Regions from separate parts of the Homo sapiens genome. Here region 1 is linked to region 2. The links come from fine-mapping of genetic effects on gene expression. A gene starts in region 2. The other region holds a variant in brackets. All regions are shown on one strand. Distances are from middle to middle.

Evidence for each region.
Region 1: its variant is fine-mapped to the expression of REXO1 in whole blood (TOPMed, PIP above 0.99).

The regions. Positions count from the first base shown.
Region 1 is chr19:1,820,823-1,826,182 of GRCh38, forward strand. REXO1 (RNA exonuclease 1 homolog) reads right to left here. Exons shown (of 16, transcript NM_020695.4): 3 at 5,017-5,121; 4 at 2,750-2,963; 5 at 697-860. LOC100288123 (a long non-coding RNA gene) reads left to right here and starts at 1,267. Exons shown (of 4, transcript NR_152847.1): 1 at 1,267-1,870; 2 at 2,193-2,435; 3 at 2,801-2,894; 4 at 3,287-3,723. The variant C/T (reference allele first, on the strand shown) is at 2,939.
Region 2 is chr19:1,845,333-1,850,692 of GRCh38, forward strand. It overlaps REXO1 (RNA exonuclease 1 homolog), which reads right to left and starts at 3,151. Exons shown (of 16, transcript NM_020695.4): 1 at 2,870-3,151. The coding sequence starts at 3,026. RefSeq lists a silencer at 2,879-3,348 and enhancers at 3,369-3,518, 3,539-3,618.

The DNA of each region.
Region 1 (5,360 bases), 25 kb before region 2:
TCTCTACAAAATAAAAAACAAAATTATTAGCTGGGGTGTGATGACACCGGCTTGTGGTCCCAGCTACTCAGGAGGCTGAGGTGGAAGGATCACTTGAGCCCAGGAGGTCGAGGTTGCAGTGAGCCATGATTGCGCCCCTGCACTCTAGCCTGGGCAACAGAGACCCTGTCTCTAAACAAAAAAAAAAAACACCAACCAACCAAAAAAACAAAACAAGACAAAACAAAAAAACACCGCCAGGGCGGTCGGGCATGGTGGCTCACGCCTGTAATCCCAGCACTTTGGGAGGCCGAGGCGGGTGGATCACGAGGTCAGAAGATCGAGACCATCCTGGCTAACATGGTGAAACCCCGTTTCTACTAAAAATACAAAAACAGCCAGGCGTGGTGGCGGGCGCCTGTAGTCCCAGCTACTCAGGAGGCTGAGGCCAGAGAATGGCGTGAACCCAGGAAGCAGAGCTTGCAGTGAGCCAAGATCGTGCCACTGCACTCCAGCCTGGGCGACAGAGCGAGACTCCATCTCAAAAAAAAAAAAAAAACACCAAGGCATGGGGAGGGAAGGTGAAGGCTGTACTGCGGTGTGGAGCACGAAGGCCCGCAGGGCAGGGGCGAGGCTGGCCCTCCGCAGGTCCCATGTGGCCGGGCCTCAGGGCGTGGTCTTGGGGGTGGTGGTCCTGGCCGAGATGGGAGGGGCTACCTGTAAGGATGGACTGTGGGCGATTCGCTTAGGGATGATGGTGGTGGTAGTCTTGGACGCCATCCCCGACAATGTGCGTGTTTTCAGCTGCTGGCCACCTGGCTCAGGGCCGTTGGAGGACTGGCTGCCGCTGGCCGCAAGGGTCCTCTTGGCACCTGTGGGGGCTGGCGGGGCACAGGGGGTGTGGGCACAGGGCGAGTGGCTGCCCATCACCACGTGGCGGAGCACCAGGCAGCCGCGGCCGCTCAGCGCCAGCAGCACGTGCATCTCCGCGTGCAGGGGGCCGGGCCAGGGTGAGGGGCTGGGGCTGCGCAATGGCATCAGGCTCTAGCTGCCTTCAGGCAAGTCCATCGAGGCAGAGGACACAGGTCAGGCTGCGGAGGCCGCTGAGGACACGTCACCGGTGGGGTGGTCCAGGCCTCTGCCACGTGTTCTGACCCCAAGCCCAAGGCGTCGATGTCTGAGGGAAAGGCCCTGGCTCCCGGACAGAGGACCGAAGGGTCTCGGGTGCCCCCACCTGCTCATTGGCTTTGCCCTGCCCTGCGGCCTCTGTGTTCTGCCTTGCCCTTTGATGAAGTCACAAACCAGAGGGAGGAGGCCAGGCCTGCAGGGGCTGCTTCGGAGGGCTGGCCACGCGGGCAGCTGCAACCTGGGCATGTACGTCTGTGTGGCAGGGGGGCTTCTGGACTGGGGGCTCGGCACCGACCCAGGAAGGGGAGCTGTGAGCAGGGACATCTGGCCCTAGTCTCAGAGCAACATCCCTCGAAATGCCATCTGGCCCTGGAAGGTGCAAGGGAGGCAGGATGAGTCTGCTCATGCTACCGCGGGCCGCCCAGCAAGGAAGCAGGCTGCCCGCCAGGCTGGCACGCGCCTCTTGCAGTGGAGGGTTTGCTCTTCAGGAACGGACAGAGAACCTCCAGACTCCCTCGGCTGCACGCTGGGGGCGAGCCCAGGCAGCCACAGGAGTCCTCCAAGCCAGATGAGCCCGCCCTGCGGCACTGCCAGCACTTGGGACGCCAGACTCCCTTCAGGCGGCGGGCCCCAAGGGCACTGCGACAGCTCAGCACCCACCACAGATCAGCAACAGGACAACCCGAGCGCGGAGACACAGACGGGAAGCGTGTGGGGTCCTGGGATAGGCCCAACTCAATGATTTCCCCTCCCTGGGGCTAAGGTCTCAGCCGTGAGGGGGCTCTGGGGAGGGGAGGTCAGAGTAGCCTGGAGAGCTCTCCCTAAGGAGGGCCGTGGGATCCATGGGATCTGCAGGGGAATCGCCGGGGCTGGCCCTAAGGCTCTCCAGCCAGCGCCAGGGAGGCAGGGGCTCCAAACCAGCAGGCTGCTCAGGGTGGTCCTCGGACAGCAGCCATGCCCTCCCAGGGAGCTTGCCAGACACACAGACCTTTCCCAGCCTCCAGACCAGAACCTGCATTTTTTAGGAGCTTTCTGGGGGACCCTCATCTGTGACCTGCCTCCAGGGATACTTTCTCGCTCTACAGACACCACTGATGTGAAGACGCAGGAGACAGGACAACCCCCCGTGAAGGGTCCTGTCCACCCACCACTGAGGCCTGGCCCGACTTTCTACAAGACCCTGCTGGGGGGGAAGTGCCCCTCGGAGTAAAGGAAATACAGCCCCACTCCTGGGAAGACAGCACTCATTTCCATCAGAGGCCACGCCCCCCACTCACACGCCAGGAGAAAGCCACACCTGCAGAAGCCTGCTCCCCACCCAATGCCAGGTACCCCGACATGGCTCCCCATTCCCTGGAACCACAGGCTCAGGCCCTGGTTCAGCCCAGTCCCCAGCAGGCTGTTGGACTCCTAGTAACCCCGGAGCTGGGTCAGGGAAGGAAGGTGCTGGGCCAGGCCTCCTGCACCCCTCAACAGTCCCCATTTCACAGACAGGCAGGCTGAGGGCCCCAGGGAGGGGGCCCAAAGTCATCCCATGAGCAAGCACCATGTGGTTCAGGTGAGCTCAGAGACCTCAGGGTGCCACCTCTCCTGCCCACATGCCCACGGCCCCCCGGCACAGGCCCCCTGGGCCAGGACTCACCTGCAGCCAGGCGGGGGTTGGGGATGTGGGCGATCCTCCTCTTCTCGCCAGGGGCGGAAATGTGGACGGAGGGCGACTTCTCTGCCAGCCTGGCGGGGGCCTGCAGCAAGCTCGCCGATGCCCTCTGCGCCTGCTGGGCCCGCAGGTAGCACACCTCCTGCGCCGTCGGGGGCCGGGCCGGGGGCACCG[C/T]GGGACCCCTCCTCGGGGGCTCCACCTGCGTCACCACAAATGCTAAGGCCTGGCAGCACAGCGGGGGCACCTGGAGCAGGCGACCCCGGGCAGGCTTGGGAGAGGGTGGCTGGAGCTCGGGGGCCGGAGGCACCACCTCCCTGGCTGCCTTCTGAGCTGCTGGGCACACTGGGGGGAAGCAGCAGGGGGCAGTGGTCCTCAATGCCATGTGGCTCCAGGCTCCCCCACTCCCAGTGTCTCCCGGTGCCCAGGCTATGTCCTCAGCCCTGATAAGGCACGGGTGGGCGGGACTACCCCGATTACACTGGCACTCCAATCCAATCCCACTACGCCTAATCTTCCTCAAAGCCCCTCCTCTGGGGAGGCTCTGGGACTGGAGCAACTGGGACTCTCCTGGCTGCTGACCCCGGAGCCAGGCTCTCTGCTTGTCCTGCACTACCTCGCCACGTCTGCACAGGGGCCTGACAAGCGCTACTGTCTCCGGGCTACAGAGGACACTGGAGCTCAGAGCTGGACAACCGGCCCAGGCCCAGGCCGCACACGGCGCAGCAGGCCGTCTGCCGCACTCTGGGGGAGGTCACCCTGGGGCTGCTGACCTGCTCTGTCCCTCGCCCCAGCACCGTGGCAATCTAACAGGAAGGGGCAGGGCCAGCTCCCTCTGGAACTCGGGCAGCGTCAAAGATAAGGTGTCTTCAAAAAGCTCATGGAAAACGTGCGTTGTGACGAAACTTGCATGGCTTTCAAGTTTTTTTGCCCCAAAATAAACTGATACTAACTTGTCATAACATGTCTGAACCAGACGGAGTTTGAGGCACTAAAAAAAAGTAAGACATCAGTTAGAACAGAGCCCCAGTCAGAGCAACAGGAGTTCTGCTAAAATTGAAGCAAATGTTAAGCATCAAATTTATGGTAAAACTTGGGTGGAAGAACGAATGGGGAAATCACTGATGCTTTACAAAAAGCGTCACAGATTTACAGGAACAATGTCCCAAAGAAATCAGAAGTTTATGAATGGATAACTCATTTTATGTATTTATCTTTTTGAGACAGAGTCTTGCCTTGTCGCCCAGGCTGGAGCGCAATGGCACGATCTTGGCTCATTGAATCCTCCACCTCCCGGGTTCAAGCAATTCTCCTGCCTCAGCCTCCCGAGTAGCTGGGATTACAGGTGCGTGCCACCGCGCCCAGCTAATATTTTGTATCTTTAGTAGAGACGGGGTTTCACCATGTTGGCCAGGCTGGTCTCGAACTCCTGACCTCGTGATCTGCCCACCTCTGGGCGCAGTGCCTCATGCTTGTAATCCCAGCATTTTGGGAGGCCGAGGTAGGCAGATCACGAGACCAGTCTGGCCAACATGGTGAAACCCCGTCTCTACTAAAGATACAAAAATTAGCCTGGTGTGGTGGTGGGCACCTGTAATCCCAGGTACTCGGGAGGCTGAAGCAGGAAAATCACTTAAGCCCGGGAGGCGGAAGTTGCAGTGAGCAGAGATCGTGCCACTGCACTCCAGCCTGGGTAACAGAGCGAGACTCCGTCTCAAAAAAAAAAAAAAAAAAAAAAACAACCAAAAAACAAACAAACAGAAAACAGAGGGATGAAGCTGGGAGCAGTGGCTCACGCCTGTAATCCCAACGCTGGGAAGCCGAGGCAGGAGGATCACTTGAGGTCAGGAGTTGGAAGACCAGCCTGGGTGACAAAGCAAGACCCCCTTTTTTTATAATTTTTTTTTTTTGAGACAGAGTCTTGCTCTATCACCCAGGCTGGAGTGCAGTGGTGCAATCTTGGCTCACTGTAACCTCTGCCTCCTGAGTTCAAGCGATTCTCCTGCCTCAGCCTCTCTAGTAGCTGGTATTACAGGCACCCATCACCATGCCCAGCTAATTTTTGTATTTTTAGTACAGATGGGGTTTTGCCATGCTGGCCAGGCTGGTCTCGAACTCCTGGCCTCAGGTGATCCACCCGCCTTGGCCTCCCAAAGTGCTGGGATTACAGGCGTGAGCCACCAAACCAGGCCAACCTCGTCTTTAAAAAAAAAAAAAAAAAAGGCTCCTGCTGGCCTGGCCTCTGCGGACCTTACCTCCTGGCCTTGCTTGGAAAGGTGGGAGATCCTCCTCTTCTGCCCGGGGAACAGAGTGGTCAGACCCGAAAGCCCCTTCTCCTCACTCTTCTCTTCCTTGGGGGGCTAAGACACATGTCCGTCCGTCAGCACAGGTCTGCCCTCGCTGCCAACACCAACACACCCCAACCTCAAACTGCCCCCGGCAAGTGGGGAATGGAACAGTCCAGCCCCCAGGCACAGCAGCTGAGGGCTCAGGGCCAACAGTCCCTGGGCTTTGTGTGGGTGCAGTCGGAGGGGTGGGCAGGTGTCACACGTTCTGCAGATGCCCAAGGCTACCTCTCCTGGGCACCCAGGGCCCCAGC
Region 2 (5,360 bases):
CCCTCCAAGCCACCCTGGGCAGGTCCAGCCGGCTCTGAAATGGCTGTGCAGCCCAGCGCGGTGCTTCACGCCTGTCATCCCAGCACTTCAGGAGGCTGAGGAGAGAGGATCGCTTGAGTCCAGGAGCTCAAGACCAGCATGGGCAACAAAGTGAGACCCCGTCTCGGCAAAAATTTTAAACATTAGCGAGGTGTGATGTCACATGCCTGTGGTCTCAGCTAGTCAGGAGGCTGAGCCAGGTGGATCCCTTGAGTCCAGGAGGTCGAGGCTGCAGTAAGCTGTGATCGCACCACTGCACTCCAGCCTGGGTGATAAAGTGAGACCCTGTCTCAAAAATTAATTCATTAAATAAAATGGCTGAGCAGGTCCAGGGATAAGAGCCCAGAAGGAAACCTGAGTCCTTCAGCAGTGCTGCTCAAGGTCGCCAATGACCCGCTGAGCCTGTGACCCAGGGCCCAGGAGCACCAGCCACCTTCCTGTTCCCGTCGCAGCTCCGCCAAGCCTCCCAACCCTGCCTGCCTTGGTGCCCTCATCAGATGCCCTCTCCTTCTCCCAGAGGCCCTGGAGGCTCCAGCCCTGCCCTGGCCAGGTGGTAGTATGGGCAAAACACGTTCCTCGATAAGCCTCCGTTTCCCCACCGGCAGCAAATAGCTCACAGGGTCACCATGCAGCGCGTGTCCAGCACAGAGCATGGCCCCACAGGTGCTCCAGGGCTAGCTGAGGGCTTTTCACCTGAACCTCTGTCCACTCTCAATCCTGGGAGGCCAGCGTTCCTGTCTATCTCCTCTCTGGAGGCCGCTGCCCTGTGCACCCTAAAATCCCCTTGAGAAGACATGGCAAAGGCTAGATCACGCCAGCCTCTTCAAATCTCATAGGAAACTGGGTGTGTGTAAATCTGGAGGTGTGGACATGGGACATGCATCCCCCCCTGTCCTCAGAGGGCAGCCTGATGAACATGTCACGGAGGCGGAAACAGAGGGTCAGAGAAACCTCACCGCAAGGAAGATGGATCCTGCCTTCTGCGGGGGGAGGCAGTCTTCTACCAGACAGTAACAAGAAGCCCTACCACCCCACCAGAGATGGGAAAAGGAGTTCATTCTCACCAGCAAAAGGGAAATGCAGACACGCCATGGTAAGAGGCAGGCAGCTGCCTTTTTCCCATAGGAACGGGGGGCAGACAGGAAGACGACATCACCAAAGGGACCCTCAAAAATAAGCCTTTGGGAAACAAATGAGCCATTTGGGATGCAGACAGATATCATAAGCCTGACTTGCGCCGGGTGCAGTAGCTCACACCTGTAACCCCAGCACTTTGGGAGGCCGAAGCAGGAGGTCGGCTCGAGGCCAGGAGTTTTGAGACAAGCCTGGACAACATAGCGAGACCCTATCTCCACGAAAACATACAAAGTTAGCCAGGCTTGGTGGCACCCGCCGCCCATAGTCCCAGCTACTCAGGAGGTTCAGGCAGGAGGATCCCTTGAGCCCAGGAGGTCGAGGCCTCAAAGAGCTGTGATCGCACCACTGCACTCCAGCCTGGACTATAGAGTGAGACCCTGTCTCTAAAAATAGGGTTAAAATGAGCATCGTGAGTCTGGTGTCACAGCCTCCGAGAAGCCTCTCCCACGCGTTGCCTTCTTCACCAACTCCCAGCCCCCGCCAAAGCCGGCTGCGTGCTCCCAGGACATCACGACCTATGCTACGGGATCTGTAGGCACAGCTGTCGGCAGGTCCCTGAGAGCACAGCCGGCATCGTACGCAGCTCTGAATCCCCCGCCTCAAACACAGCGAAGACGCTGGGCTGTGGGGAGCTGACAAGTGATTGCTTGCATCTGTCCACCTGCAAACAACCGCCCACAGGTGCAGGTGTCCCAAGCACACTTATCAGGGAAATCAGAAAAAAATGCTACCTTTTCTGGCAAAACAGGAAAATAAACCTATTCTTAAATCCTAGAGAAGATGTTTCTCTTTTGCAGGAAAAGGTTCTGAGCTGAGACTGTTTCATGGTTAAAGTAAAAACAGTGCTTGAAACTCACGCCCAATGAGGAAATCTGGGACGAAGGAAGTCAGGGGCTGGGTGAAGCAGAGAGCCACTATCAAGGGACAGAGGTAACAGGGGAGTCTGAATGACATCACACTCGATAACCCTCCCTCCACGACTTTCCTTGCGATGTCCCTCTTTTTCTCCAATCCAAATCCCACATCTCCTCCAAGAAACGCTGCCATGACGATGAAAACCACCATGACGCTGTGAGGTGGAGTCCACCAACGTCCTCTGCCCGACCAAAAGCATGGAATTCCTCGGAGCCCACTCGAGTAAGCTTTGACTTCCTCCCTGCCAGTCATGCTGGACACAGGGCTCGACAAACACAAGAGACGATCCTCGGACCATCCTAACTCAACGACTGGAGACTGAGGTGGCCGCTGCCAGAGGCGCGGCCGGAGGAAACGTCATGGAAATAAACAAGGGCGGCCACAAGCACATGGGGTCCGGGAAGCGGCGGGCGCCAATCAGGGGCAGGAGGAGTCCAGGACCTGCCTAGCGCCGGCCGCGCCCGTCTCCCGAGCCCCCTTGTGTCAGGCCCGGTGCCCGGTACTCAACATGCGCTCGCACTCCGCCCTCTAGACAGCCCTGGCAGGACGCGTCCTCCTAGTTGACATTTCACACTCGTGAAGACGAAGGCTTAGGGACATCTAGTGCTTTGCACCGGGTCCCAGGGTGGGTGGTTCCGGTCCCGACTGGGAAAACCGTCGCCCGCGAACGTGTGGGGAGGAGGCTGGGCCGAGAACGGGGACCCCGGGCGGGACCGGGGTGGGGTCCAGACCCGGGCAGGGGAGCCGAGCCCAAGGCAAGCAGGCGGGCGGGCATTACCTGCTGCGGGGGGCGCCTCTCCGCCGTCACCGGGCGCGCCGGAGCCCCGGGCCCCGCGGTGCCGGAAGTGGCAGTAGGGCCGCCGGCAGGGCCCCCCGGGCGCCCCAGACCAATAGGGGCAGTCAATGGCCCGGAAGAAGCCAGTGGAGCGTAGCATGGTCCGTCCCGCGGCGGGGCCCCGGCCCGGAGCCGCCCGGGCCCCAGGGCCCCCTCACTGGCGCCGCGGTCGCCGCCGCCCGCGCCTCACGGACCCCGCCGCCGCCATCTTGCTCCGAGGCCCCCGGAGGCCCTCGGGACGCCGCCGCAAGGGACCCCGGGAGGGGCTGCCCGCAGCGCGCCTGCTCAGAAACGCCTGCTCCTGCGCGACCAAGGCTGGTGACGGACCCCTGGGCCGGGACAGACGGCCGCGGGAGGAAGTAAGGAGGGCAGGGGCTGCCCTGCCTGCGGTCTCCGGGAGCCTCGCCAGCGCCGCCGCCCGACCTTCGGCGGCTGTAGCGGCGCCATCTTGAGCCCCAGGCCCCTGCGGCGCCAGGGCTGTCCACGGCGCGCCTGACCAAAAAAGCCCCGCGGGGCCCGCTATTACTCATTTGCATATTATTTCCTTTCGTTAGCATATCACCTTAAGGCGCCCTCTGCTGGACGAGGAGAGTTCTGCGGGGAGGTGGCCTTAAACCTGGGCCAGGTGAAACTCATGGTTGAATTACTCCGTTCACAGTCTTTAAAAATCCCCTCGCCCTGGTATACAGCTGGCTCTCAAGAAACGCCTTAATCTCCCCAACCTCGACTCTTGTCATCAGTCTAATGACCAGGTCCACGTTCACTCATTTGTTCAACAAATATTGAGCGCCTACTGTATACCAGCTAGAGGGTGCATTTTAACAGACAAACGAGGAACAAGGCTGGGATGGGGCAACTCTGTAGTCTGGTGGAGTAGGCCCACGTCTTAATGGGAAGTTTAACCTGGTGCATTTTGGTGGGATTGTAAAATAGTGCCACTGCTATGTAAAACAAAAAACCCAAAAAGTTTGTTTTTAAGAGACAGGGTCTTGCTCTGTCACCCAGGCTGGAGAGCAGTGGTGCGATCACGGCTCACTGCAGCCTCGACTTCCCTGGCTCAGGTGATTCTCCCACCTCAGCCTCCCGAGTAGCTAAAACCACAGGTGTGCACCATCATGCCTGGCTAATTTTTTGTATTTTGTGTAGAGATGGAAAAAGTTAAACAGAATTACCCTATGAGCAACTCTATTCCTGGGTATACACCCAAAAAGAATAGAAAGCAAAGTCTTAGGTCGGGCACAGTGGCTCATGTCTGTAATCCCAACACTCTGGGAGGCTGAGGCGGGTGGATCACTTGAGCCCAGGATTTCAAGACCAGCTTGGCCAATATGGCAAAACCCTGTCCTACTAAAAATACAAAAATTAGCTGGGCGCGATGGCTCACGCCTGTAATCCCAGCTCTTTGGGAGGCCGAGGAGGGAAGATCAACCGAGGTCAGGAGTTTGAGACCAGCCTGGCCAAGATGGCGAAACCCCACCTCTATTAAAAATACAAAAATTAGCTGGGCGTGGTGGCGGGCGCCTGTAGTCCCAACTACTTGGGAGGCTGAAGCAGGAGAATCACTTGAACCTGGGAAGCGGAGGTTGCAGTGAGCCAAGATTGCACCACTGCACTCCAGCCTGGGTGACAGAGTGACAGTCCGTCTCAAATAACAATACAATGGTTAAGATGACAAATTTTATGTTATGTGCATGTGATTTTACCACAATTATAAATAAATGACAGGATGCAATGATGAGGGGACGTGGGTTGGGATGGGTCATGGGCGACTCTGCAGAGGACCTGATCTAATCTCAAAGCTGTCCTATCATGGGCAGTGGAGGCGTAGACTCCCTGTCATGGCTCCTGATGATGCGTGAGAGATGAACTCTCATTTATGCGATTGCTCCATCCGTGCCGGCTGGTGTCGGTCATTCATTCAGCAAATAGTTACTGAGCACCTACTGTGTGCCACAAAATGCTAGAAACATCCATAAGCAGAGCAGAGAACCCCACTCTGGTGGAGGTGATGGTGTAGGCAGGGAGGCCGACAATGAACACAGCAATAAGTGAGACAGCCTGAAGCCAGGTGGAAAGTGCTTTGAGAACAGAAACAGGAGAAGAGCCTGGACTGGGCACAGGGCTGGTCTGGGTGATTCTATGGGGAAGGCGGGATTTGTGCGGTTTTACAGAAAATTAGGGGCCAGGCATGGTGCCTCTCGCCTGTAATCCCAGCACTTTGGGAGGCTGAGGCAGGCAGATCACTTGAGGTCAGGAGTTCGAGACCAGCCTGACTAACATGGTGAAACCCCATCTCTACTAAAATTACAAAAATTAGCTGGGTGTGGTGGCCCATGCCTGTAATCCCAGCTACTCGGGAGGCTGAGGCAGGAGAATCCCTTGAACCTGGGAGGCGGAGGTTGCAGTGAGCCAAGATTGCACCACTGCACTCCAG